Regions from separate parts of the Homo sapiens genome. Here region 2 is linked to region 1. The links come from fine-mapping of genetic effects on gene expression. Tissue or cell type: whole blood. Region 1 holds a variant in brackets; the other region holds the start of a gene. All regions are shown on one strand. Distances are from middle to middle.

Evidence for each region. PIP is the estimated chance that this variant, and not a neighbour inherited with it, causes the effect.
Region 2: it holds the start of SMG6, and the variant in region 1 is fine-mapped to the expression of SMG6 in whole blood (TOPMed, PIP above 0.99).

The regions. Positions count from the first base shown.
Region 1 is chr17:2,093,122-2,101,224 of GRCh38, forward strand. All of the region lies in intron 13 of SMG6 (SMG6 nonsense mediated mRNA decay factor), which reads right to left. It overlaps SMG6-AS1 (SMG6 antisense RNA 1), which reads left to right. Exons shown (of 2, transcript NR_199038.1): 2 at 8,001-8,103. Among named protein-coding and RNA genes, the nearest start is that of SMG6-AS1, 7.4 kb to the left of the region's middle. The variant T/C (reference allele first, on the strand shown) is at 3,339.
Region 2 is chr17:2,300,615-2,308,717 of GRCh38, forward strand. It overlaps SMG6 (SMG6 nonsense mediated mRNA decay factor), which reads right to left and starts at 3,171. Exons shown (of 19, transcript NM_017575.5): 1 at 3,019-3,171; 2 at 1-50. The coding sequence starts at 3,106. It overlaps SRR (serine racemase), which reads left to right and starts at 3,336. Exons shown (of 8, transcript NM_021947.3): 1 at 3,336-3,403. It also overlaps the pseudogene HNRNPA1P16. RefSeq lists enhancers at 1,429-2,243, 2,573-3,299 and silencers at 2,801-3,010, 3,201-3,420.

The sequences.
Region 1 (8,103 bases):
AAGTGGAGGTTACAGTGAGCTCAGATCGTTCTATTGCAATCCAGCCTGGGTGACAGAGCAAGACTCTGTTGCAAAAAAAAAAAAAAAGATAAGACAAGCCTGGGCAACATAGTGAGACTGTGTCTGTCAAAAACAAACAAACAAACAAAAAAGCTGGGCATGGTGGTGCAACACACCTATGGTCCGAGCTAACTAGGAGGCTGAGGTAGGAGGATTGCTTGAGCCGGGGAAGTCAGAGCTGCAGTGAGCCATGAGCACGCCACTGCACTCTAGCCAGGGTGACAGAGTGATATCGTGACTCAAAAAGAAAAAAAAAGACAGAGGGAATACATATCAAATACTTAGCGAGATGCCTGGGCCCAGTAGGTGCTCGATAATTGAGCAGCTGGCATTTTTTTTTCCTCTTATCTCCACTCTCTTCAGAGGTGGGAGGGGCACTGCCTAACATGGCTGAGCTGTTTGGAAGCCAGTCTGAGAGGCAAGGTGGGAAGCATGGGGCTGGCACATAGCCTAGGGCCAAGGGGAGAGGCCCTGGAATGCTTACCTGGCTGTTGAAGCTGCAAAAAAAATTTTTTTTAAATTTGTCCAGGCTGGAGTTTGCAGTGGCGTCATCATGGCTTGCAGCAGGCTCAGTCTCTTGAGCTCAAGCGGGAAGCTGGCTAATTTTTAAAAATTGTTTTGTAAAGATGAGGTCTTGCTATATTGTTGGTCTCAAACTCCTGGCCTCAAGTGATCCTCCCACCTTGGCCTCCCAAAGCACTGGGATTACAGGCACGAGCCACCACTCAGGGCCTGAAATATTTTATTCAGAACTAAGGTGCTAGATCCAGGCTACTGGGCTGGCCAAGCAGGGGAGGAAAGACCTTGCCTCTCTTCAGCAATCCCTCTCCCTATTCTTCAGAAAGACTCCGGACCTAACCATAGGTATGCATGCATTACTCCAGTAATCTAGAGAGGCTCCAAGGTCCCGGGCTTCGGAACAAGCGGGCCACTAATAAATGTATCAGAAATACAGTCACAATTGCCTTGTCCATGAGGTCCCTTCACAGTGGGGTACGGGCGGTGGCTCTGCCTTTGCTAGTGGGATCGTTGAGGGTTTGAGGAGGCCCTGCAAACCCTGCAACGTAACTTTCTTTCTTTTTTTCTGAGATGGAGTCTGGCTCTGTCACCCCAGGCTGCGGTGCAGTGGCGAGATATCAGCTCACTGCAACCTCCACCTCTTGGGTTCAAGAGATTCTTCCTAAGTAGCTGGGGCTACAGGCACGTGCCACCACACCCAGCTAAGTTTTGTATATTTAGTAGGGATGGGGTTTCACCATATTGGCCAGGCTGGTCTCTAATTCCTTACCTCAAGTGATCCACCTGTCTCGGCCTCCCAAAGTGCTGGGATTACAGGCGTGAGCCACTTTGCTTGGCCAACAGTATCTTATTTTATTCTAAGATGGGGTCTTGCTTTGTTGCCCGGGCTGCTCTTGGCTACTCCGAACTCCTGGCCTCAAGGAATCCCACTGCCTTAGCCTCCCAAAGTGCTGGGATTATAGGTGTTAGCCACCGTGTCCAGCCTGGTATCTTTCTTAAATAAGACCCAGCTGGATCCTTGCCTCATGTCTCCCAATATGAAAGTAGTGATGAGAAGATCCCCAATATGGTATTTTCTACCCACCTGAATTTCCTGAGCTTAGATGTTCCAAACAAAGCCAGATAGGAGTCTGGTCTTCCATGGGCAGAGTAAGCTTGCTCTTCTTGAACTGTTCCTTCATGGACAGAAACTATTCTTTTCTAGAGCTCTCGGCTCCGGCTGTACCAGAAAGGTACATTCTCAGCGGCAAAAGCGTCACAGAGAGCAAGCTATAGGCAGCAGTAGCTCGGGCTTCAGTCCAATTCTGCTTCCCCTGCAGAGTGCTCTTAGAGCAGCCACCCACATTGGCAGGGGTTAAGGACGGATATTGGCACTGCCAACACAAGCCTTTCAGGTCTGGCTGGCTTCAGCTGATCTGAAACCTGGAACACAGGCGCTGGGGCCCTCACTTACTGAACCAGCAGGGGAGGCTGCAGGCTCAGCCCCTGGGGATGAAAGTCCTCCCGTCTGTCTCAGTCTGCAAATATCCACACACAGTCTGTTTCTACACTGCCAGTTAGCTCTGGGCCAGAAGCACTGAACCTTGGGCTCTAGTCACTCTGAACCACACTGTTTGCCTTCTAGACAGCCACGTCCAGGAGGCCTCCCCTTAGGTTTGTGTTTAGGCTCCTTTACCAAATTTGCTCCTAATTGTATTTATTCTACGCGTGGCACAAGAGTGGACTCTCGGAGACATCTGTAGTCTTCAACACACTTAGGCAACATGCAGTTCAGCAACATGTAAGTGCCTACTGTGTGTGTGAGGCACTGTCCTCCAGACCCTGGGGACTCATCACAGAACAAAGGAAAATCCCTGTTTCACTTGGGGGGTTGGGTGGCGTGGGTCACATTCATACCAGATACATCAACAGACCCCCTGCATCAAGAGAGCACGCGCCCCTCCCCGGCTGCCATGACCTGCGGTACTCAGGAAGGCAGAATTCTCAGCCCAAGGGAGAAGAAAAGCTCCTTGCAGAGACCCAGGACACTGCTCCTTCATTCCTTTCAGGCGGATGGGTCCCGAGGAAGTCGGGATGGAAAATTCTTTTGGGCTTAGCCTTGCTATCAAATGAAATCCCAAGCTCCTTGCAAACCCTCGCCCACCCACCCCTCCCCCCAAAGATCACTACTGGCACTTGTGGCTATTATTCCCTAATCCGGAACTTCAAGCCCCAGGCAACCCCCTTTGCTATACCCTGCAGGCTGTCTGCTTCCCCTGGCACCTCTGAAAGTTCACATATTACTCCCCCAACCTGCAGTTATTTTACATTTAAGCAATCAATTCATTCCCTCATCGTCTTTTAAGCTTGGTAAGGTCTTTTTCTTTTTTCTCTTTTTTTTGAAACAGAGTCTTGCTCTGTTAGCAATCAAGGCTCACTGCTGCCTCAAATAACTGGGCTCAAGCAATCCTCCCACCTCAGCCTCCAGAGTAGCTGGGACCACAGAGGCACACCACTTATGTCTGGCAAATAATTATTTATTGAGACAGAGTCTCACTGTATCGCCCAGGCTGGAGTGCAGTGGCGCGATCTCGGCTCACTGCAACCTTCGTCTTGAACCTGGGTTCAAGTGATTCTCGTGCCTCAGCCTCCTGAGTAGCTGGGATTCACAGGTGCACGCCACCATGCCCGGCTAATTTTCATATTTTTAATAGAGATGTGGTTTCACCATGTTGGCCAGGATGGCCTCGAACTCCTGACCTCAGGTGATCCACCTGCCT[T/C]GGCCTCCCAAAGTGCTGGGATTACAGGCGTGAGCCACTGCGCCTGGCTAATGGCTAATTTTTTTTTTGTAGAGACAAGGTCTTACTATGTCCCCTAGCTGATCTCAAACTCATAGCTTTAAGTGATCCTCCTGTATTGGCCTCCCAAAGTGCTGGAGTTGCAGGTGTGAGCCGCCCATCCCAGCCTATAAGTCCTTCAAGACGCCAGTTAGCCTTTGTCCAGTCTGCCAGCCTACCTTCCACAAATCTTTCGTAACGCCCTACTATGTGACAGGGACTGCTAGACATCCTGGGCACACAAGACAAGACAAGACAAGACAAGACAGATGCAGTCCTTGACTTCACATGACCTTCAGTCCAGCAAAGGACTCCACAGGAACCTCACACTAACCTCTCCCAAGTACACAGGTATCCCTCCAGCAACTATGGACTAGGCCTACACTTCATTCATCTTCTCTGACTCCATTAGCAGCCCTCAACATCTGCACTACTTGTACGTCACAAAGTGAATTCTTTTGTCCTTTGGTTGGAAGAGACCTTAACAATCACTCAGAGCCACAAGAGAACCTCCTCTAAATACCCCTCAGTGATCCAAGTCTTTCTTGACTACTTCTGGTGGAGAGGACTCAAGGCCCTGGAGTAGTTTTTAAAATCAATCATTACTTAACATTGAAGAAATATATAATTTTTCTTTTCTTTTCTTTTTTTTTTTTAGACAGGGTCTCTCTCTGTCCACCCAGGCTGGTGTGCAGTGGCACAATCACGGCTCACTACAGCCTCGACTTCCTGGGCTTAGGTGATCCTCCCACCTCAGCCTCCCAGATAGCTGGGACCACAGGTGCGAGCCACCACACCTGCTAATTTCAGGGTTTCACCATGTTGGCATGGCTGGTCTTGAACTCTTGGCCTCAAGCAATCTGCTTGCCTCCGCCTCCCAAAGTGCTGGGATGATAGGCATGAGTCACCACGTCCAGCCAATCATTTTTATTGTCTACACTAACAGACTTTTTTCCTGACCATTCTGTATGAGGTGTGTTACTGTGTTGAATCTGTAAGGGGGCATATTTCCTACCAGAAGGCCATTCTATTTTTGGACTTTTCTAATTGCTAGAAATGTTTACACCTTTTAAACCCAGATCTGCCTCCCAATGCTTCTAATTCGGTTCTCTGGGGCCATGTAAAAAAACAAAAAACAAAAGAAAACAAACTCAAATTCTGCTTTTATCTGACTGGCCTCAAATTATGAGGTCTGCTGTGTTATACACCTTCTCTAGGCTAAACAGTCCCACTTCCTTCAACTGTGCCTCACTCCAACTGTCTCCTAAACATCCTGCTTATTCTTTCACTAAGACTTTCACTAAGACTAAAGTGTCTCCCACAGTGAGTGCCCACGTGACCTGGTAGCAGAGCAGAGAGTAGACCATTCCCTCCCATTTCTATCGGGGATACTCAATTTTAATAATAGACTTAACAGCATTACTGTTGTTGTCCCCACCTTGCACTACTGATAAACTGTGAGCTTCTTTTTTCCTTTTCTTGGGGGGCGGGGGACAGGGTCTTGCTCTGTCCCTCAGGCTGGAGTACAGTGACGAGATCATGGTTCACTGCAGCCTTGACTTCTCAGACTCAGGTGATCCTTCCGCCTCAACTTCCTCAGGAGCTGGGACTACAAGCACGTGCCACCACACCTGGCTGTGTGTTCTGTAGAGACGGGGTTTCACCATATTGCCCCAGTTGGTCTTGAACTCCAGTTCAAGTTTAAGGAATCCTCCTGCCTCAGCCCCCCAAAGTGTTCGGACTACAGGTGTGAGCCACTGTGCCCTGCCAATTGTGAGCTTCTAATCAACAAATCCCCAAATTGTTTTCACATATGTTGCTAAATCCTATCTCCCTTTATGGAGTACAAGCCCTCCACCAACTATTCCCTTTCACATCTTTTCCTTCACCAAGGTCTTCTCCCCATGCCTGAAGAAATCCGATTATTTACCATTGTGCTGCATGCTACATGCTAAGTGTGGCTGACTTTTTGGACCAGGGTAGGGTTTTACATTCTTTCTTTTCTGATTTCATCTTGTCATTTACTTCTCCCCATTGCAACCTATTAAGTTCTCTTTGGATCCTAAATTTTTCATCTAAGAATGCATTCCCTTCTCAGGTTTATGTTACATACTTTTTGTTGTTGTTGTTGTTGAGACAGTCTCGGTCTTGTTGCCCAGGCTGGAGTGCAATGGCGTGATCTCGGCTCACTGAAACCTCTGCCTCCTGTGTTCAAGTGATTCTCCTGCCTCAGCCTCCCGAGTAGCTGGGATTACAGGCACCCGCCACCATGTCCAACTAATTTTTGTATTTTTAATAGAGACGGAGCTTCCCCATGTTGGTCAGGCTGGTCTCAAACTCCTGACCTCAGGTGATCCACCCGCCTCAGCCTCCCAAAGGGCTGGAATTACAGGCGTGAGCCACCGTGCCTGGCCATGTTACATGAATTTTATCAGTTGGTTTTATTTACAATTCTTAATATCTTTCTCCCATTAATCTGTCGTGTTTTTTTCTCCTAAGTAAGATTCTTGAGGGGAGGCACTAGTGTGTGTGTTTGTGTGTGTGCTTAAAATAAAATCTATCTGCAGTATTTAACATGCACTATGGATACCTGAACAATGTGGATGAGTGATCGTGGGGGTCAGATGGCAGCCTCAGGACAATCCCAGAGGACATCACGGAGGTGGTGCGGCCATACTGCCTATACTGTGTCAATCATGCTCCCCGAAGCTGTGCAACACAGACACCTGGACACACTCGGAGATGCTACCTTCTGTTTGGGGGGTGCTCCTCATGGGGGTTTGGACTCAATAAGGAATAGGGACTCCTCTTTGACAGGCTGCCTCCAGTTTCTCATGTGAAACCAGATACCAGAAGAAGCCACGCTCTGGGCAGGTCTTAACTCCATGGAGGCTGTTGTACCAGGTCAAGGTAAAATGTACCTCCTAAGAAGTGACATTTAATGATCTTCAAAGCACTGATGTCATGCTTTGAAAAAAAAAAATTACATCCACATCTGAAGAACCCCCACAGCATATTAAAAAATGTAGTATGCAGACATTCTCTGAGATTTGGGCTGAGGTAGAAAGCCATTTTAAGTTGCATTTTCAGGTTCTATGTTTCTGGAGTCCTGAATCACAAACATGACCCATGCCTCATAGTTGGAGACAAGAGAAGCTTTGTTAACGAAAACGAACTAGCCTATCCATAGCTCGGGATAACGTGTAAGTCAGCAAATGGCTGCCATACAGAACCAGCTCAATCAGTGTCAGTTCTCCCTTCTTCACATCTGAACATGAAAAGGCATTTTTTCAAAACCAACTGTATCACAATCACACGCTGAGCTTATTAAAAATGCAGATTCCCGAACTCCACTTTTTTTCTGGAGACTGGGTCTCACTCTGTCGCCCAGGCTGGAGTGCAGTGGTGAGATTTCCGCTCACTGCAACCTCTGCCTTCTGGGCTCAAGTGATCCTTCCATCTCAGCCTCCTGAGTAGCTGGGACTACAGGTGCCTGCCACCATGCCCAGGTAATTTTTATCTTTTTTTTTTTTTTTTTCGAGACAGTGTCTTGCTTTGTTGCCCAGGCTGGCGTGCAGTGGCACAATCTTGGCTCACTGAAATCTCCACCTCCCAGATCTAAGCAATTCTTCTGCCTCAGCCTCCTGGGCAACAGGGATTACAGGCAAGTGCCACCATACCCAGCTAGTTTTTGTATTTTTTGTAGAGATGAGGTTTTGCCATGTTGGCCAGGCTAGTCTCAAACTCCTGGCCTCAAATGACTCGCCCGCCTCGGCCTTCCAAAGTGTTCAAGTACAGGAGTGAGCCACCGTCCCTGGCCTAATCTTTGTATTTTTTTTAGAGATGGGTTTTCACCACATTGGCCAGTCTGGGCTTGAACTCCTGGCCTCAAGTGATCTGCCCTCCTTCACCTACCAAAGTGCTGGGATTATAGGCATAAGCCACTGGTGCCCGACTTTGTTTGTTTTCTTTTTACCTAACACTACTCCTTGGCTATGGATTCCACTTTGAATTCAATGAATTAGTATTTCTTGAGATAGGACCTTAGAATGTGTACTTTTAAACATTTTATTCTATGAGACAGGGTTTTGCTCTCTCACCTAGGCTGGAGTGCTGTGGTGTAAACACGGCTCACTGCAGTCTCAACCTATCGAGTAGCTGGGAATACAGGCGCACACCATCACATCCAGCTAATTTTTAAAAAATGTTTTGTAGAGATGGGGTCTCGCGATATTGAACAGGCTGGTCTTGAACTCCCAGGCTCAAGAGATCCCCCTGCTTCAGCTTCCCAAAGTGCTAGGATTACAGGTGTGAGCCACAGCACCTGGCCAGAATGTATTGCACAGGCTGGTCTTGAACTCCTAGGCTCAAGAGATCCCCCTGCTTCAGCCTCCCAAAGTGCTGGGATTACAGGTGTGGGCCACAGCACCTGGCCAGAATGTGTGTAAGTGTTCCAGGTACTTATGAACACTGAGTTTTAGAATTACTGCTTTAAAGGATGGAAGGTTAGGTCAAAGTGGTCACAATTTTACTAGACTCTTCAAAATGCAACTCTATTTTTCAAAGGTGCAAACACTACTACTATCTATATATTTTTTGAGACAGGGTCTTGCTCTGTCACCCAGGCTGGAGTACAGTGGCGTGATCAAAGCTCACTGCAACCTTGAACTCCTGGACTCAAGTAATCCTCCTGCCTCAGCCTCCCAAG
Region 2 (8,103 bases), 210 kb after region 1:
ACGCCTGTTATCTTTGCGCGGCCTGGCCTCCTTTAATTCCTTCATGTTTTCTGTTATGTCGGGGAAAGAGTTTGGGAGGGAAAGGTAGAAGATAAGAATAAAGAAGGAAGATAGGGGAAAGACTGTCATTCTGGTTAAGTAACAAAAAAAGTCGAGCAAGAATTACATATCCAAATGCTAATACTGGTAGGCAAAGAAGGACATTTCTGTAGAAGCAGAAATTCTGGGTTTACAACACTTGTTCAACAATTCACAAGGCTAAGGACCTAACTGTGTTGGGGCTACCTACACTTGGGTAAGTGAAATGGGGGAAACCCATCTCCTTATGTGTCATCCAAGTCATATTCAGAAATCCAAGATCCCAAACTACCTCATTATTGTCAGAACAAAAGACCTCTCTAACCTTTTCAGCACTACACTGTTCTCTATCTATAGAGCCTGTGAATCCACCTCAGCCTTTTCTTCCGCCTCTAACTTTTTCCTGGGTGGCTAAGTTCTTTTAACATAACAGCAGGAGGAAGAAGTAAAAAAGGAGAAAAAGGAGGGAGGGTATTATAACAATTATCAGTCCTGGACATCTCTGGAGAAAAAAAATGCAACTTTAGTCTTTAAACTTGACCAGGATGATTCTCTTCTTCAAGATACCAATTACCAAATAACATACCTGCTGGTGAATTAAACAGCAAGCAGTTCTTTTCCCATTCTTCAACTTCACCCATCCTCACCAACTCACTAACAGTAGCTCACAGAGTTACCAAAATACTGCTCAGACTATCATACTAGAATACTGACACTAACTGCTACTGTGATGATGGAATTATTAGAAAAAAGTTCCATAAGGGAACTTTCCCTGGATGCTGATGGAAAGATTGTGACATACTCTCAAAATGCCAACAACTGGGAACTCAAGAATTAAGAATAATACAGGACTTTAGAAACCACTCTCGGCCGGGCGCGGTGGGTCACGCCTGTAATCCCAGCACTTTGGGAGGCCGTGGTGGGTGGATCACGAGGTCAGGAGATCGAGACCATCCTGGCTAACACGGTGAAACCCCGTCTCAACAAAAAATACAAAAAATTAGCCGGGCGTGGTGGTGGGCGCCTGTAGTCCCAGCTACTCGGGAAGCTGAGGCAGGAGAATAGCGTGAACCCAGGAGGCGGAGCTTGCAGTACGCGGAGATCGCGCCAGTGCACTCCAGCCCAGCGGACAGATACTTACTTAAGTATCTGGTTTTTTAAAAAAGTATCTGTTACCGTTATCAAAAGTAACCACTAAACATTACAATGGAAAAGTGACAGAATTCGGGAGAATATTATCAAGTACACAAATGGAATGCTATATAAAATCCTAGCATAGGCCAGGTGCAGTAGCTCACGCCTATAATCCCAGCACTTTGGGAGGCTGAGGCGGGAGGACTGCTTGAGGCCAGGAGTTCGAGATCAGCCTGGGCAACATGGCAACACCCTGTCTCTATAACGTATACAAAAAATAGCCAGGTGTGGTGGTGCAGGTCTGTAATTCCAGCTACTCGGAAGGCTGAGGTGGGAGGATCACTTGAGCACAGGAGGGGGAGGCTACAGTGAGCTGAGATCCCTCCACTGCACTCCAGCCTGGAAGACAGAGTGAGACCCTGCCTCAAAAAAATTGGCCGGGCACGGTGGCTCACGCCTGTAATCCCAGCACTTTGGGAGGCCAAGGCGGGCGGATCACGAGGACAGGAGTCCAGACCATCCTGGCCAACACGGAGAAACCCCGTCACTACAAAAATACAAAAAATTAGCCAGGCGTGGTGGCACACGCCTACAGTCCAAGCTACTGGGGAGGCTGAGGTAGGAGAATGGCGTGAACCCGGGAGGCGGAGGTTGCAGTGAGCAGAGATCGCGCCACTGCACTCCAGCCTGGGCGACAGAGCTAGACTCCGTCTCAAAAAATAATAATAACAACAATAAAAAAGTTTTTAATCCTAGTATTGCTCTCTAAATATAAATGGAAACAAGCCCAAAACAGGAATCATATGCTCCAGCAAGTACATTTACTGTTTGTAGGTGTAAGGAAAAGGGGAAGAAAAGAGACTGAGGTTTTGGATAGTGCTTCACTATTTTCATAAGTTTAAAAGGTAGGTTCATGAAGTATCCACAAAGATAAAGCAGTTTAACCCAAGAATAGCTCACCCTCGGCAGTCTGTAACTTGGTGGGGGGCGGGGGGATGGGGAAAGCTATTCCTACTACTTTCTAGAGCAGCGGGAGAAAATAGCCTTAATAATCCAATTATGTTAATCAACAAAAACCAATTTCACAGACTGGCCGCAAACCTAGAGAAGGCACCTATCACAGCTACCATTCTACACAACTCTATTGCCTAACGCAGGAGAGGTGAGACACTTAGAATCTTTCTTACTTTCCTGACGTGGCTGGAGACTTGAAATTAACTTGCAAATTGAGCATTCTCTCTAATAAAAACTGCTCCCACACATGCCAGGGCCAAACCCGAGTAGTCTGAGGTCCCGGATCCCTCCAGTGGCGCAGCTTTCGGAAGCCTGTCTTGGGGGGGAAAAGTTCAGCAACGAAGTCGCAGGCTCTTAAACCTTTCTCCCCAATTCCTTCTCTCCGACGTTAAAGCGGTGGCCGGGGCAGGCCCGCGGAGGGCGGCCTGGAGAGCGATACGCCCGGGGCCTCCACCAGACCCCACTCCTTTCCGCGTCTCCCGATGCCTGGGAATCCGGGGCGGGTCTGAGAGGGCTGGGGCAAAAGGAACAGTCACCTTCGCGGCGAGAAAGAGGGTGGAGGCAGGAATTCGGGCCAGGCTCTCCCGGAGCTGGCCAGGACTGGCCGAGCCCGACCCCGCACTAACCCGCGAGAGAGGTAGGGCAGCGAGGGTCCGCCGCGGCCCCAGCGCCTACTGCTGGGGGAAGGGGCGGGGGCTCCGGAGCCGAGGGCCGAGCGGGGAGGAGGCAGAGGAGGAGGAGAGGGAGGCGGGGCGGGCAGGCCCGGCCCAGGAGCTGGGCGGCGCGACTCACCTCTGCTCCCGGCCTGCGGGGCCAGAGTAGCCAGGATCCCGCGCAGCTCCGACGCGGAGATCCGCACACGCTCCAGCCCTTCCGCCATCTTCGCGGCTGCTGCTACAGCCGTAGCGGCTCCGCCACCGCCGCGCGCAGCCAGGAAACCACCACAGACGGGCGGCGCGCGCGCTCGCCCACCTCCCGGCCTTTCCCCGCCCCCTGCCGCCCTCCCTTTCCGAACGACGGTGGCCGCGCTGGGAGGAAAAGCGCCCGCCGCCGGTTCCAGAGGGGCGGGACCGGAGCGAGAGCCTGGGTGGGGCGGGCGGGCGCTGCGCGTGCGCAGAGGTGCGGCCGGGGAGGCGCGCGGAGGCTGGAGCTGGAGGCGCGGCGCCGGTGAGCTGAGGTGAGGCGAGGCCGGGCCGTGCCAGGCCAGGCGGGCGTTTGCGGCGGTGGCTGCCGTTGCTGTTGTCGTGGACACCAAGGACACTGCTAGTCTGGGACTCGGGTTGACAGAGACACCCCTCAGCCTGGGCTCCTCTGGACACCTTAGGCCAGGCTCTCCCGCCACAGGCCCGGCCTAGCGCCGCGGGCCATTACTTGGGACCTTGAAGATCTGCTAAGAGTAGTTGTTACTATTCCCTTTTTTTTTTAGTTGGAGTCTCGCTCTGTTGGAGACTCCCGGGCTGGAGTGCAGTGGCGCGGTCTCGGCTCACTGCAACCTCTGCCTCCTGGATTCAAGCGATTCTCCTGCCTCAGCCTCCCTAGTAGCTGGGATTACAGGTGCACGCCACCAAGCCCGGCTAATTTTTGTATTTTTTGTAGAGACGGGGTTTCACTAGGCTGGTCTCGAACTCCTGACCTCAGGTGATCCACCCGCGTCGGCCTCCCAAAGTGCTGGGATTACAGGCGTGAGCCACCGCGCCCGGCCGCCCCCTGACTTTTAAAAACTAGATACGATATAGTTGGAATCGTGTGGAAGGAAGTACATCAGGAGGCATATAAGTCCATTTGGGACCTGTAATCCCGGCGACTCGGAACGCTGAGACGGGCGGATCGCTTGAACCCGGGAGGCGGAGACTGCAGTGAGCCGAGATCGCGCCACTGCACTCCAGCCCGGGAGTCTCCAACAGAGCGAGACTCCGCCTCAAAAAAAAAAAAAAGTCAATTTGGGAATTTCTGTGTCACTATGGATTCTTGAAAAAAATTACTGCTGTGGATCTCAGGTTGACTTTTTAATTTCCCATCTTTAAAATTGAACTATACCAGAAGGCTGGTACTTGAATCTTTTTTTGGAGAACTGTACAGAGGTGAAGCTCCCTTCCCCAAGGCCTCCTGCCTCCACCTGTTGCCCCTCCACAGCCCCATAGGCTTTTACCCCACACCCATCACAGAATAGTTACCAATTATTCCTTAGTCTGAGCCGAAGGGATTGCCACAACCTCTGACAGAACTCCTTCAGTTCCTTTTACGTGACACTTTGTCACCGGAAGGTTAAGCATAAGAAGAAAGTCAGTAGATGATGGGTGAAAAGATCCAACAGTTCAGAAGAGGAACCATTTGAGTGGTCAGAGCAGAAGACAGCCTTTGCCACCAGATTTGAGAGAAATAGGAAGAAGCGTTAAAAAATAATCTGTTTCATATTGAAATTTGAGAGGCCATTGCATGATTTCTTTTTTCAGCTGGAAAAATAATGGAAAACAAGAAAACTTTCTTAGGACAAATGGCACCACCCATTTAATGCAACAGTGTCAGTGAACTGCAGATTAGATATGCCAAAAGTTAAACCAGTTCAAGAAAATTTACCAGAACTCAGAAGGAAAAGGTAATAGATAAAAACTGAGAGACAAAGATAGGAGACATGGAGAAGGGGTACAAAAAATTAATAATTAAATACGAGTTCCAGAAGGGGATAATACAGCTGACTGCAGAAGAGCAATAATCAAATAGTAGAAGAAAATTTACTACGTTGGTGGAAATTTTTGAATTATCAGATTTAAAGAATTCATGAAATACCAGGTAAAAAGAAATGACAAGAAAGACAACCATATTTAAGTCAGTATCACAATGAAAGCTGCTGAGATTTTTTGTTTTTCGTTTTTTTTGAGACGGAGTTTCACTCTTGTTGCCCAGGCTGGAGTGCAGTGGCACAATCTTGGCTCACTGCAACCTGCCTCCTGGTTTCAAGCAATTCTCTTGCCTCAGCCTCCTGAGTAGCTGGTATTACAGGCGCCCACCACCATGCCCAGCTAATTTTTTGTATTTTTAGTAGAGATGGGGTTTCACCATGTTGACCAGTCTGGTCTCGAACTCCTGACCTCAGGTGATCCACCCGCCTCAACCTCCTAAAGTGCTGGGATTACAGGCGTGAGCCACCGCGCCCAGCCTTGAATTCAGTTTCTAAAAGTAAAAATTGTACAAGTTGGCCGGGCGCGGTGGCTCACGCCTGTAATCCCAGCACTTTGGGAGGCCGAGGTGGGCAGATTGCCTGAGCTCAGGAGTTCCCAACCAGCTTGGGCAAGATGAAACCCCATCTCTACTAAAATACAAAAAAATTAGCTGGGTGTGGTGGCGGGCACCTGTAGTCCCAGCTACTTGGGACGCTCAGGCAGGAGAACTGCTTGAACCTGGGAGGCAGAGGTTGCAGCGAGCCGAGATTGCTCCACTGCACTCCAGCCTGGGCGACAGAGTGAGACTCCGTCAAAAAAAAAAATTGTACAGGTCATATTTACTTAGCACAAAGTAATAAAACTAGAAGTGAATAGCCACAAATGAAGCAAAACATTCTAACCATTTGGAATTTTTTTAAAAACAACAATTTTAGGCCAGGCCCCGTGGCTCATGCCTGTAATCCCAGCACTTTGGGAGGCCAAGGTGGGCAGATCACTTGAGGTCAGGAGTTCGAGACCAGCCTGGCCAACATGGCGAAACCCCGTCTCTACTAAAAATACAAAAACTAGCCGGGCGTGGTGGTGGGTGCCTGTAATCCCAGCTACTTGGGAGACTGAGGCAGGAGAATCACTTGAACCAAGGAGGTAGAGGCTGCAGTGAGCCGAGATCACGCCACTGCACTCCAGCCTGGGTGACAGATAGAGACTCTGTCTCAAAAATAAAACAAAACAAACACTTTCCACCCATGGACACCGCCAAGTCTAAGTCAGAGTCTCCTAAAGAGCTCGTACAGCTGAAGAAGCTCTTCATTGGAGGGCTGAGCTTTGAAACAACCAATGAGAGCCTGAGGAGCCATTCTGAGCAATGGGGAACACTCGCGGACTGTGTGGTAATGAGAGATCCAAACACCAAGCACTCCAGGGGCTTTGGATTTGCCACATATGCCACTGAGGAGGAGGTGGATGCAGCCACGAATGCAAGGCCACACAAGGTGGATGGAAGAGTTGTGGAACCAAAGAGAGCTGTCTCAAGAGAAGATTCTCAAAGACCAGATGCCCACTTAACTATGGAAAAGATATTTGTTGGTGGCATTAACGAAGACACTGAAGAATATCACCTAAGTGATTATTTTGAACAGTATGGAAAAACTGAAGTGATTGAAATCATGACTGACCAAGGCAGTGGCAAGAAAAGGGGCTTTGCCTTTGTAACCTTTGATGATCATGACTCCGTGGATAAGACTGTCATTCAGAAATACCATACTGTGAATGGCCACAACTGTGAAATTAGGAAAGGCCTGTCAAAGCAAGAGATGGTGAGTGCTTCATCCAGCCAAAGAGGTCAAAGTACTTCTGGAAACTTTGGTGGTGGTCGTGGAGGTGGTTTCGGTAGGAATGACAACTTTGGTTGTGAAGGAAATTTCAGTGGTCATGGTGGCTTTGGTGGCAGCTGTGGTGGTGGTGGATATCGTGCAGTGGGGATGGCTATAATGGATTTGGTAATGATGGAAGCAATTTTGGAGGTGGAAGCTACAATGATTTTGGCAATTACAACAATTAGTCTTCAATTTTTGGACCCATGAAGGGAGGAAACTTTGGAGGCAGAAGCTCTGGCCCCTATGGTGGTGCAGGCCAATACTTTACCAAACCACGAAACCAAGGTGGCTATGGCGGTTCCAGTAGCAGCAGTAGCTATGGCAGTGGCGGAAGATTTTAATTAGGCAACAAAGCTTAGCATGAGAGGAGAGCCAGCGAAGTGACAGGGAAGCTACAGGTTACAACAGATTTGTGAACTAAGCCAAGCACAGTGGTGGCAGGGCCTAGCTGCTACAAAGAAGATATGTTTTAGACAAATACTCATGTGTATGGGCAAAAAACTCGAAGACTGTATTTGTGACTAGTTGTATAACAGGTTGTTTTAGTTTCTGTTCTGTGGAAAGTGTAAAGCATTCCAACAAAGGGTTTTAATGTATTTTTTTTTTTTGCACCCAAGCTGTTGATTGCTAAATGTAATAGTCTGATCGTGACACTGAATAAATGTCTTTTTAAAAAAAAAAAACAACAAAAAAACCACCAATTTTAAATAATTCATGGGTCAAAAAAGAAAACAAGACTAAAATCTTGGATTATTTAGAAATTATAATAATGAAAATATTGCATAATGGAATCCATGATATTAAAGCACTTCTCAGAGGAAAAATCCTATAAGTAACCTTATATGCTTTCTTTTTAAAGTGAAAATTAGTAAGCTAAGCATTCAACAAATATAGAAGACAATTAAAGGAAAATGGCAGAGTAAACAATCAGAAATAAGGGAAAAAGAGCTGTACTTTAAATAGATTGAAAAGCTCATTCTTCAGAAATAAAGCAGATACTAATATACACACATTTCTGGCAAAAAATAATTTTTAAAAAAGGGACATCCTCTTGGATGTTTCATAAACAATTCAAACTTAGCTAATCAAATCTGATTTTCCTGTCAAATACTTATTTCTTCTCCTGTTTTAAATCTCAACAAATTGTACCACCATTTAAGTCAAAACCCAGGAGTTACTCTTTTTAAAGAAAAATTTTTGGCTGGGCACGGTGGCTCACACCTGTAATCCCAGTACTTTGGGAGGCCGAGGTGGGTGGATCACAAGGTCAAGAGATCAAGACTATCCTGGCCAATTAGCTGGGCATGGTGGCACGCTCCTGTAATCTCAGCTACTTGGGA